Homo sapiens: one gene and its partners. The protein of the gene in region 2 purifies or fractionates together with the protein of the main gene of each other region. This does not show direct contact. Each region holds a gene or a part of one and is shown on either strand. Other genes may lie near its edges. The genes, in order: VPS4B, TTLL12 and CRHBP.

Region 1 (3,653 bases), on a different chromosome or scaffold from region 2:
ATGTGTATTTTACTGTCTTTACTCACTAATATTTTAGCTGCATGAGGTCAGGGATTTTTGTCTTTTTTGACTGCTCTACTTTCTGATCTACCACCGGTCCCAGATTAGTATTTTAGAAATAAAATACTAGTAAATGCAAAAAATAAACAGGGAATCTTCTTCTTGTTAACTGAAATAATCAGCTTTAAAAGAAGTAAAGGATGGAGCCGCTGAGAGGTCTGCTGCAGCTGGTGATCCCCAGCTGCAGAGATAAAACTCATCTGGCTGTGTCACCTTCATCCCACTAACAAGGACCTGGCTTCAGCGTCATGTGAGCTCACCCTGGCAGTAATATGCAGAATTGAGTGACAAACTCTCAGTAGGAAAGGACTGAGTTCCTATGCATTTATAGTTTCTAAATGGCAAAGAGAATTTAAGAAAAAACATAATGGCTGTGGCATAAACTTAACAGTACTTCAGTAATGAAATGGCTGAAGAAGGGTGGATGAGTAACATTCCCTACGCATCTGAAGTACCACGACTGGTGTTTTATGAGTATTATATCACTTCATTATTGGAAAGGACTTCAAAATAGCATTATCACATCCCCATTTTAGAAATGATAAAAATGAGCTTTAAAGAAGTAATAGAATTTGCTCAAAAAGGTATAACAAGTAAATGGTGCCAGGCTTCAAATTCAGATTTTAATTCAAGCTTGTTAACTTAAAAAAATCTTATTATGGTACATGATAAATATACGTATGTGACTTAGTCATATTAGTCTTGACATACATTATGAGATTAGGTTTGCTAATAGTTTTTCACATGTATGTTCATGAGTAATACTGGATACTGTTGTTCACAGCAAAAGGGTTGGTCCAGATTACCTAGTTCATTGTTACTCAAACTGGGTATCTCAAGACCACAGCCTTCTTATAAAACTTTATCTCAGCCACAGATGCTTAACTTGTTCTTGCAGACAAAACAGAACACAGGAGGGGCAGGATAGCAGAATGGCTGAGATTTCAGATTTGGAAACACACCTCACCTCCAGGCAAATCACATGTCTGTCCCACTCTAGCTACTGTGTTAGCACCTACGTCCAAGACTAACCACCATTAGGTGGCTGGCTACATGTACCTCTCTTGCTGATTTTTGTGAAGACCAAATGAAATAGTAAGATAAAAGACAGAACACAGTGCCAGGCATGTGAATATTTAAAAGATATTAGCTATTATTATTTTTACTTTATGAGGTATAAATGCACCAGATTCTACTCAAAAATATTCTAGATGTGTCAGAAGCAGCCTTACATCTGTACATTTAAGTTTCTATACTTATATCAAAATAATACACAAATACTTCAAAAATCATTTCATAGGAAAATTTAAAACACATTAGGATGATTAATAAGGCCTTTTCTTTTTTTAAGACAGGGTCTCACTGTGTCACCCAGGCTGGAGTACACTGGTGCAATCTCGGCTCACTGCAACCTCCACCTCCTGGGCTCAAGAGATTCTCCCACTTCAGCCTCCCAAGTAGCTGGGACTACAGGAGTGTGCCACCACATCCAGCTAATTTTTGTATTTTTTACAGAGATGGGGTTTTGCCATGTTGCCTGAGGCTGGTCTCTCCTGAGCTCAAGAGATCTGCCCACCTCGGCCTCCTAAAGTGCTGGGATTACAGGTATGGGGCACTGCACCCAGCCAAAAATGGCCAATAAATAAACTTTATTAAAGAACTTGTTTCAGTGACACAGAAATATGTCTATTATGTAAACCCACTTATGGTATTATTATACAACACTGAAATCCTCCCAAATTCTTTGAAGACAAACCAATGACGGTCTTGAAACTTGATTTTAAAAATACAGGAAAAGGGCCAGGCGCAGTGGCTCACGCCTTTGGGAGGCCGAGGTGGGTGGATCACCTGGAGTCAGGAGTTCGAGACCAGCCTGGCCAACATGGTGAAATCCTGTCTCTACTAAAAATACAAAAAATTAGCCAGGCGTGGTGGCACACGCCTGTAATTCCAGCTACTCAGGAGGCTAAGGCATGAGAATTGCTTGAACCCGGGAGGCGGAGGTTGCAGCAAGCCCAGATAGTGCCACTGCACTCCAGCCTGGGCAACAGAGTGAGACTGTCTCAAAAAAAAAAAAAAAAGATAGGAAAGGATAGATAAAAATGACTTACCTTTTTAAAATGAGTAGCTGACTGTACTTTCCTAACAGGCTGCATAAGGGCATCACGTACAATGATACTTATATCTGCCCCTGAATAACCATCTGTTTTCCTCCCAAGTTCCCGAAAGTCTGCTTCCGTGAGACTGTTCTGAGTGGTCCCTAGGTGCAGTTTAAACATTGCTGCTCGGGCATGGGGTTCCGGCAAGGGAATATAAATTCGTTTCTCAAATCTTAAAAGAGAAATTACATCAAGAATATATTTAATTGAAAATTAGGATATTTCCAAGAAGAAACAGATACTAAGTTAAGTGGGCCTGTATGTGCCAAGGTTAAACATATATATTTAGGTTAAAGGGATAATATCCAGAACACATTAAAAACAAACAAATAAAATCAAAATAGCCTGGGAGCCAGTTTGAAGTGGCTGAATCTTTCGTGCATTTTTGGGTTATTTTGGCCACAGTGTTCCTATGTCTGGAATTCATGAAATAAAAAGAGGTCCTACAGGGTTACAGTTTCCCACAAAATTGTACTCTGAACTCTTGATCAAGGGACTAATGATTAACAATATAAAACAGGAGTAGAGATGACACAGTAATTCTCTACATTCAAAACAGAATTACCTCACAATCTTATAGGATATATATTACACAAAATGTCCACTTTAATGAATACATCCAGAACAATCCTATATTATAAAGAATAAACACTATGTTTCATTAACAATAATTTTGCTTGCTTTCTTAGAATTTCGGTATTTGGAGACAGAGAAGCAACGATGAGGGATAATTTAAGTGGTCTGAGCAGACTGTTTTTTCTCCAGGTAACTCTCTGTGACAATGAAAAGAATTTAAAGTTTCCGTTGCCTCTAGAGATGGGTGCAGAATAAGGCAATTTTTCAAAAATACCCTGCACATTTCCTTTCTTGGTACTGGATGGTAAGCTAGAATGCTGGCGCAAATCATCAAGTGAATGGGATAAAAGTGGCAAAAACTGAAGTGCTAATTTTTACCATACAAAATAAATGAATGTAATACAGAACTGTGAAGAGTGAAAAGTGAAGAGTCCGTATACCTTTCCTAGAACTGAAGTTTCATTTTCAACTTAAAAATTAGATAGATAGATGTGTGTGTGTATACATATATACATATACACATATACATATATACACACACACACACATATATATATATATATATATTTTTTTTTGAGATGGAGTCTCACTCTGTTGCCCAAGCTGGAGTGCAGTGGCACAATCTTGGCTCACTGCAACCTCCGCCTCCTGGGCTCAAGCGATTCTCCCACCTCAGCTTCCCGAGTAGCTGGGACTACAGACAGGTGTGCGCCACCATGGCCAGGTAATTTTTTTGGATTTTAGTAGAGACAGGGTTTCACCACGTTGCCCAGGGTGGTTTTGAACTCCTGAGCTCAGGCAATCTGCCTACCTTGGTTTCCCAAAGTGCTGGGATTACAGGCATGAGCCACCACACCC
Region 2 (3,653 bases):
AAGAGCCTGCACAGCATCATCCGGCACCGAGAGAGCACCCCCAAGGTGGGCCCCGCAGACCAGGAGCCCCAGGGCTCAGGGCCCTGGCTGGACAGTGAGAGGTGGGGCTAAGGGGACCGAGCATCATGGTCCTTATGGACAGGTCCAGGCTGGGCAGGGTGGCTTACACCTGTAATCTCAGCACTCTGGGAAGTGGAGGAGGATCACTTGAGCCCAGAAGTTTGGAACCAACCTGAGCAACATAGGGAGACCTCGTTTCTACAAGGGAAAAAACTTTAAAAATTATCTGGGCATGTTGGCACACACCTGTAGTCCCAGCTTCTCAGGAGGCTAAGGCAGGAGGATCACTTGAGCCCGGGAGGTTGAGGCTGCAGTGAGCTGTGATCGCGTCACTGCACTCCGCCCTGGGCGACAGAGCAAGACCCAGTCTTTAAAAAAAGAACTGTCCTGGGTGCGTCTAATCGCAAAGTTCCTACCACATAGTGTGCCAGGTATGGCTGCCCAGCAGGGTGAGGTGGCTGAGCCTGGACAAGGAGCCTCTCAGAGCCGTGGTAAAGATTCATAGTGAGGGGACATCCAGAAGCAGTATTGGGATTGCAGGACACAGGATCTGCCTGGACTGTGTACATAGTCAGAGGCTGGCGGGAAATGCATCATGAGGACGATTGTCGTGGAGACTTCAGGCCATGGGATGGGGGTGGATGGAATTATGGGTGAGAATTTATATTTCATTTCAATTAAAAATGGATATAAAGACTTTGCTTCAGGGTGCGGTGGCTCACACCTGTAATCCCAGCACTTTGGGAGGCCAAGGTGGGCGGATCACCTGAGGTCAAGAGTTCGAAACCAGCCTGGCCAACATGGAGAAACCCCTTCTCTACTAAAAATACAGAAATTAGCTGGGGGTGGTGGCGGGCACCTGTAATCCCAGCTACTCAGGAGGCTGAGGCAGGAGAATCGCTTGAACCCGGGAGGCAGAGGTTGCAGTGAGCCAACATTGTGCCACCGCACTCCAGCTTGGGCAACAGAACAAAACTCTGTCTCAAAAAAAAAAAAAAGACTTTGCAGCAACTTAGGCAGGTTTGAAAAGGCAGAAGGAGGAGTAAAGTGCAGCCATGTCTGTGCCCCCTGCGTGGCTTTGTGTGCTCGGGAGCCCCAGGGGGCTCTGTCCTGGCCACCAGCGAGCTTGCACCTGTGTCCTCCAGGTTGTGTCCAAGTACATCGAAAGTCCCGTGTTGTTCCTTCGAGAAGACGTGGGAAAGGTCAAGTTCGACATCCGCTACATCGTGCTGCTGCGGTCAGTGAGGCCCCTACGGTTGTTCGTGTATGATGTGTTCTGGCTGCGGTTCTCCAACCGGTAAGTGGAGGGCCGGCTGGGTCCAGGGTCGGGGAGCTGGGTGACCGGGTGGAGGTAGCGGGTGGGTGATGGGCCCTTTTTGGAATCAGAAAATGTTGTTGGAAGGCACCCTCCATCACTCACCCAGCTAGCGGCCCTTGGAGCCCATCTCCCTTGGTGTTAATTGGCGGTGACTTGCCCTGCCCACCTCAGAGTTCTGGTGTTGCCCACAGTAATGGATGTGAACATTCTTTGTAAAATGGGCACCAACATGAGAACCAGGTGCCATTTTTATGGACCTGCAGAGGCTTCACAGCTAGCACCTCACTCACCTCCACCCCAGCTCAGTGGGGCTGTGGGGCTCCCCCAGCCACACAGACAAGGGAACAGGCTCCCGCCTGAGCAGCAGGTGGTCCTGCCCTGAGCCCTGAACCCCTAGTTGGGAAGGCTGAGTGGGTGGCACCTCCCTCGCAGGGACAAGGCCGCTCAAGAACCCATATGTGTCTGCACACTTGTCTTCCAGGGCCTTTGCACTCAACGACCTGGATGACTACGAGAAGCACTTCACGGTCATGAACTATGACCCGGATGTGGTGCTGAAGCAGGTAGGGCCTGAGGGAGGTGCAGAGCAGGTTCACACAGAGGCCAGGGCACACCCGACCCCACCCCGCCCACACTGCCTCCTAGGAGGACTGGCACACAGGCCAGTCCCAGGAGCCGCCTCCTGAGTTCCTGCTATGGAAGGCGATTGTTAGCGCTGCCATCATGAGCCAGGCTGGGTTCTGTGTTGTCTCAGGTAGGTCTCCCCACGGCACAGAGGGCCACTGGCTGTGTTTGAGATAATGTGGACACAGAGGGGGATGGGTCCAGCAGCAGGTTGAGACAGTGTGTTCCCAGCCGGGGCTTACTCCTCACCACCACTTCAACCGGAAAAGCAGACCACCCTGTGAGTGCCAGGGCAGGCGGGGGCGGGGAGGCCCCACCTGGTCCGGCTGGCTGCTGGCCCGTGACCCTGCCCGGGTCTAGGACCTCCTGTCCTCCCTGGTGCACAGTGTTGAGCGGTGCCCCATGCAGTGGGCACTCAGTGAATGGCAGCTGCACCATCTGAGCACCTGGAGCTCAGGGGCATCTGGACAAAGGCCCTTCCAAGGTGGGGGCGAGAAACCAGAGCTGGCCAGCCAGTGTACGTGGACAGGTAGGCACAGCCTGCACAGAAGCAGGAGGCCAGCTCTGGGTACAGGAAGGAAGAAAGGAAGTCCTGGAAGGCCTCTGTGGCCTGGCTGGTTAATGAGTGTTTCAGATGCACAGAACACCTACCCCACCCTGCCTGTCGCCAGCCTTGCAGGTGCCGCGGACTCCCCATGCAGCCAGCCCCAACGCTCCCCGACCCCTGAACGTGTGGCTGTCATTCCCAGGCATGTCTTTGGTTCTTTTCAGCAGGAGTATGTTCCTGACCATTCAAGCTGCTGTTTTGCTTACTTAGGTTTTTTGTTTTGTTTTGTTTTTTTGAGAGACAATGTCTCACGCTGTCACCCAGGCTGGAGTGCGGAGGCATGATCTGGGCTCACTGCAACCTCAATCTCCTGGGCCCAAGCCATCCTTCTGCCTCAGCCCCCTAAAGTAGCTGGGACTACGGGCACGTGCCTCCACGCCCGGCTAATTTTTTTGTATTTTTAGTAGAGACGGGGTTTCGCCATGTTGCCCAGGCTTGTCTGAAACTCCTGGACTCAAGCGCTCCGCCTGCCTCAGCCTCCTAAAGTGCTGGGATTACAGGCGTGAGCCACCATGCCCGGCCTCCTACTTAGGTTTTTATGTAAATATCATCTTATTCAACGGATCCTTCTGCAGCTTGCTTTGTTGGCTGAGTGGCGTGTTTTGAGGTTTTGAGGTTCGGGCTTGTTGCTAACTGTGGCGGCGATTGGTCATCTGAGGTCTTCACTAATGATAAATCATGGCGCGTGAACATGCGTGGAGGCACCTGGCCATGCCCATGTCCGAGGAGTCCTCTAGGAGGACTTGGAGAAAGGGCCCTGCCATGCACTGGTGACTATACCAGCACACACTCCCCACAGGGGCCGAGTGGTCCTGTTGCTTCTGTCTGTCTTATCCTTGCCTGTGTTGAAGCCTACTCCCTAGGACCCAGACCCCCCAGCAGGGCCCCAGGACATTGTTGGAAGTCGCCCTCAGGTTCTGAGCCCCTCCCTTCTGTACTGTGGGGGTCATCCCGGGAGTCCTCTCCTGGAGCTCTGTGCCTGGGGAGGTACGTCCAGCATGGCATGGATGGCGGGCTTCCATAGGGGCCTTTCCTGGCTTGTTC
Region 3 (3,617 bases), on a different chromosome or scaffold from region 2:
AGGTGACAGAGCCAAGACTGTCTCAAAAAAAAAAAAAAAAAAAAAAAAAAAAAAAAGAATTTTCTTTGTAGCTTAGAACCTTCCTTTTTGCTCCAAGATGTCTTTTACATACTACACACTCAGTTTTAAGCCAAACACGGAACAAAGCTCAGTCAACAGTAAACTGCCTTCAGTATCAAAGAAGTATTCAGATTTCTGCAAATTGTGTCTATGAGAGTTGTTGTAAGGTCCTTGCTGTCTTTGTAGAAATGTATATCGTGACAAAAACACGTATTCTGAGGATAGCGGAAAATGAATCTCTGCACCCGCTTCCCTGCCAGGACCAGCTAGTGTTGCCTGTGCAAACACTGCAATTCTACCTCTCCTCTAAATAATTCTACTTCAATGGCCCAGAGTTCTAGCTCTGAGAAGTCCAAAATGATTTAGTTCAGCATTTGGCTCTGCACCACATGATAACATTATTTTCTGATGGTAACAAGAAAGAGGACTACTCAGGAAAGCAAATAAAGCCCAACATCATGGTGCCAACATTCTGAATGTATTTATTCATGTTTGTATTTGTGGATGGAAAATTTTTTCCATGCTACAAAGTTTGGTTAAAAACAAGTTGTTACAAATCAATAAATAATTGCTATAACTATTACCTATTGTAACAATAATAAATAGAAAATAAACAGATGCAACTACTTTGCTATACACAAGACTTTATCCTGTTATAAAACTAATATAAGTGCTGCCACTTTTCTTTCTTTGAGTATTTTCCCTTGAGATACGATTTTTGTATTGCACGTTGCTTTGTGCTTGTCTTACCAGTTTCAGGTTTGTAGCACATCAAAGAATTACAAACATTTCCATTTAGAACTATGATCCTACCAATCAGGGGTTATTTTCTGCCATGTGTTCATTTACAGATTACAAACATAAAAGAAGCAAAGTACAAAAATTAATGCGTGTGTGTATGTGTGTGTGTGTGTGCGCGCGTGCGCTCAAGGCTGGGAATACTGACTGGTATGAAAGGCTTTTAACTAGTTGTGCATCAAAATCATACACAATGGCCATTAAAAACTCACTTAGCTATCAGCATGTAAATCACTGGGTTGGTTATTCAAAGACCAGACAAACAGAATTCCCCGATACTGTTTCCATTTGGGTTTTCCAGCTCGTACGGCTCCAGCTGACGATACTCAAAAGTCACACGATTTACGTGTTTTCCACTGGAGACCATGCGCACCACAGTGTTGTCACAGCCAACTTTCATCTGGGCTATAATGGATGGAAAAGATAAAAGTTTCCCAGCAGGTTAGAAACCACACAGTCATCATTTAAATGACGGGATCACTTAAACATAATGAAAGCAAGGAGACCTATCTTCCTCTCATGTACCCAAACCATGCATCTACTATCAGTTGAAATGTTTTTGTTTCATTTTTATTATAACTTATAATTAGTTATAGAATAGTGCAATTGAATTCAGTCTTTCTCCTCATGTGCAAGAACACTATTAAAAAATAAAACTAGCTGGAAAGAGGCAAGAAGATGTCTCCTCGGCCTTTTTTGCCTGCAAAGCCTAAGTAGTAAAGGCAGGCAAAGGCAATCAGTCTGGAGTGTGCACAGTTGCTCGGGTTCAGGGATTGCAGTGGAAACAGTACGGCCCTCTAAGGACAGGTCGGAAATTTGCAGTGGCAGTTTTTGGTTGTCACCGATCTAGGGTTGCAAGGGGCATTTAGTGGGGGCTAGAGGATGGAATGTACTGCGGGACATTTATGTAGACCAAAAAAAAAAAAAACAAAAAAAAACACCTGTTTATCATTTTCTGAATTTATACAAAAACTGTTTTATACATAAACAAAAAGATCATTTGCATCGTATAGACATACACTGAACATACTAGTTTTTGTTTTATTATCCACTTACAACTTTTCTCTGATTTTTTCTGTACTATTTATATGAAATGGCTTCTGATATCCTTGCTTCTCTTAAATCCAATCTTATTCAGCTGGGCACGGTGGCTCATGCCTGTAATCCCAGCACTTTGGGAGGCCGACGTGGGTGGATCACGAGGTCAGGAGTTTGAGACCAGCCTGGCCAACATAGTGAAACCCCGTCTCTACTAAAAATACAAAAATTAGCCAGGCATGGTGGTGCGCACCTGTAGTCCCAGCTACTCGGGAGGCTGAGGCAGAAGAATTGCTTGAACCTGGGAGGCAGTGGTTGTGGTGGGTCGAGATCACACCACTGCACCCCAGCCTGGGCAACAAAGTGAGACTCCATCTCAAAAAAAAAAAAAATCCAATCTTATTCATTATTTATATAAGATCTGACAACTTTTATATCTCCTCTGTATGGGTTATATATTGAAACTCATATTACTTTTATTAAGAATTACTTTCCTTTTATTTATTCTATTTGTTTATCCAAGCTGATTCCTGAGGCAAGATTTATCTGCTCTACAATAATCATTTCTGCTGTTTTAGTTTTCTCAATCTTTCTTTTCCTCACTTTGTCTCTATAAGGTGTTTTTAAATTTTAAGAAATGCTATCATTGTCCTCGTGTAATGGGTACCACTCAAACACATACCTGGGTTTAAATGAAGTAAACAGTTCAATAGAGTTATTGAGATAAAAGTCAAATGGATGACATAATAAATAAAAGCCCTATAATTATTTTAATATAAGTACCAGGTAGTCTAGTTAAGCTTCTACCAGGAGGTCCAAATTTCTTTTTCTTTTCCTTTCCTTTCTTTTTTTTGTGGCAGGATCTTGCTCTGTCATCCAGGCTGGAGTGCAGTGGTGCCATCTTGGCTCGCTGCAACCTCTGCCTCCCAGGTTCAAGTAATTCTCCTAACTCAGCCTCTCCAGTAGCTGGGATTACAGTTGTGTGCCACCACACCTGGCTAATTTTTGAATTTGAATAGAGATGGGGTTTCACCATGTTAGCCAGGCTCGTCTCAAACTCCTGACCTCAAGTGATGTGCCCGCTTCAGACTCCCAAAGTGTTGGGATTACAGGCATGAACCACCACACCCAGCCAAATTTATTTTTCATTAAACAGTTTGGAGGTCATTCTTTTTCTGATCTTACTCTGGACTTTAATCTTTATAACATGTCCTATTTTCTTTACTTATTATTTATTTATTATTTTGAACTAATTCCTAACAAAATCCAATGTAAAGGGCAGGGTCCTTAATAGTTCAACACTGAACAACTCAGGAGGGGCTCATGGAAATATGATAAAGAAAGAAAAGAATTAAGGCAGGAGAATAGGGTCTGGAGGCAGGGAACTTAAGGTCAATTCATGCTGAATCAAGGAAAAACACCAAGGCCTGGTGGCAGGGAAACTGAGGCCAATTTGTGCTGACTTCCCAAAGCTGGATCAAAAGGAAAACACCTGGGTCTGGGGGCAGGGAACCTAAGCCCAATTAATGCAAACTTCCTAAAGCTGAACCAAAAGGAAAAACCGCATCTCCCCCAAGCCCAAGTAGCGACGGATCAAAGGCTAGTCTCCCTACAACCCTCCCCTTCCACCACATCTCACAAGGAAAGGGAGAGTGCCTTGTACTGGCCGTGGAACAAGCATGGGCTATCTCTTCATCTGCATAGGGTGCCAATTCACCTCA

Evidence for each region.
Region 1: the proteins of TTLL12 (region 2) and VPS4B fractionate together in Homo sapiens (co-fractionation; one large-scale study listed by BioGRID). This does not show direct contact.
Region 3: the proteins of TTLL12 (region 2) and CRHBP purify together in Homo sapiens (co-immunoprecipitation; one large-scale study listed by IntAct). This does not show direct contact.

What each region holds. Positions count from the first base shown.
Region 1 is NC_000018.10:63,394,863-63,398,515, forward strand, and holds part of VPS4B (vacuolar protein sorting-associated protein 4B), read right to left. Parts: intron 2,392-3,653; coding exon 2,172-2,391; intron 1-2,171.
Region 2 is NC_000022.11:43,170,107-43,173,759, reverse strand, and holds part of TTLL12 (tubulin--tyrosine ligase-like protein 12), read left to right. Parts: coding exon 1-45; intron 46-1,205; coding exon 1,206-1,357; intron 1,358-1,859; coding exon 1,860-1,941; intron 1,942-3,653. UniProt on the Homo sapiens protein: Negatively regulates post-translational modifications of tubulin, including detyrosination of the C-terminus and polyglutamylation of glutamate residues. Also, indirectly promotes histone H4 trimethylation at 'Lys-20' (H4K20me3).
Region 3 is NC_000005.10:76,966,374-76,969,990, reverse strand, and holds the end of CRHBP (corticotropin-releasing factor-binding protein), read right to left. Parts: intron 1,264-3,617; coding exon 1,106-1,263; 3' UTR 520-1,105; downstream 1-519. UniProt on the Homo sapiens protein: Binds CRF and inactivates it. May prevent inappropriate pituitary-adrenal stimulation in pregnancy.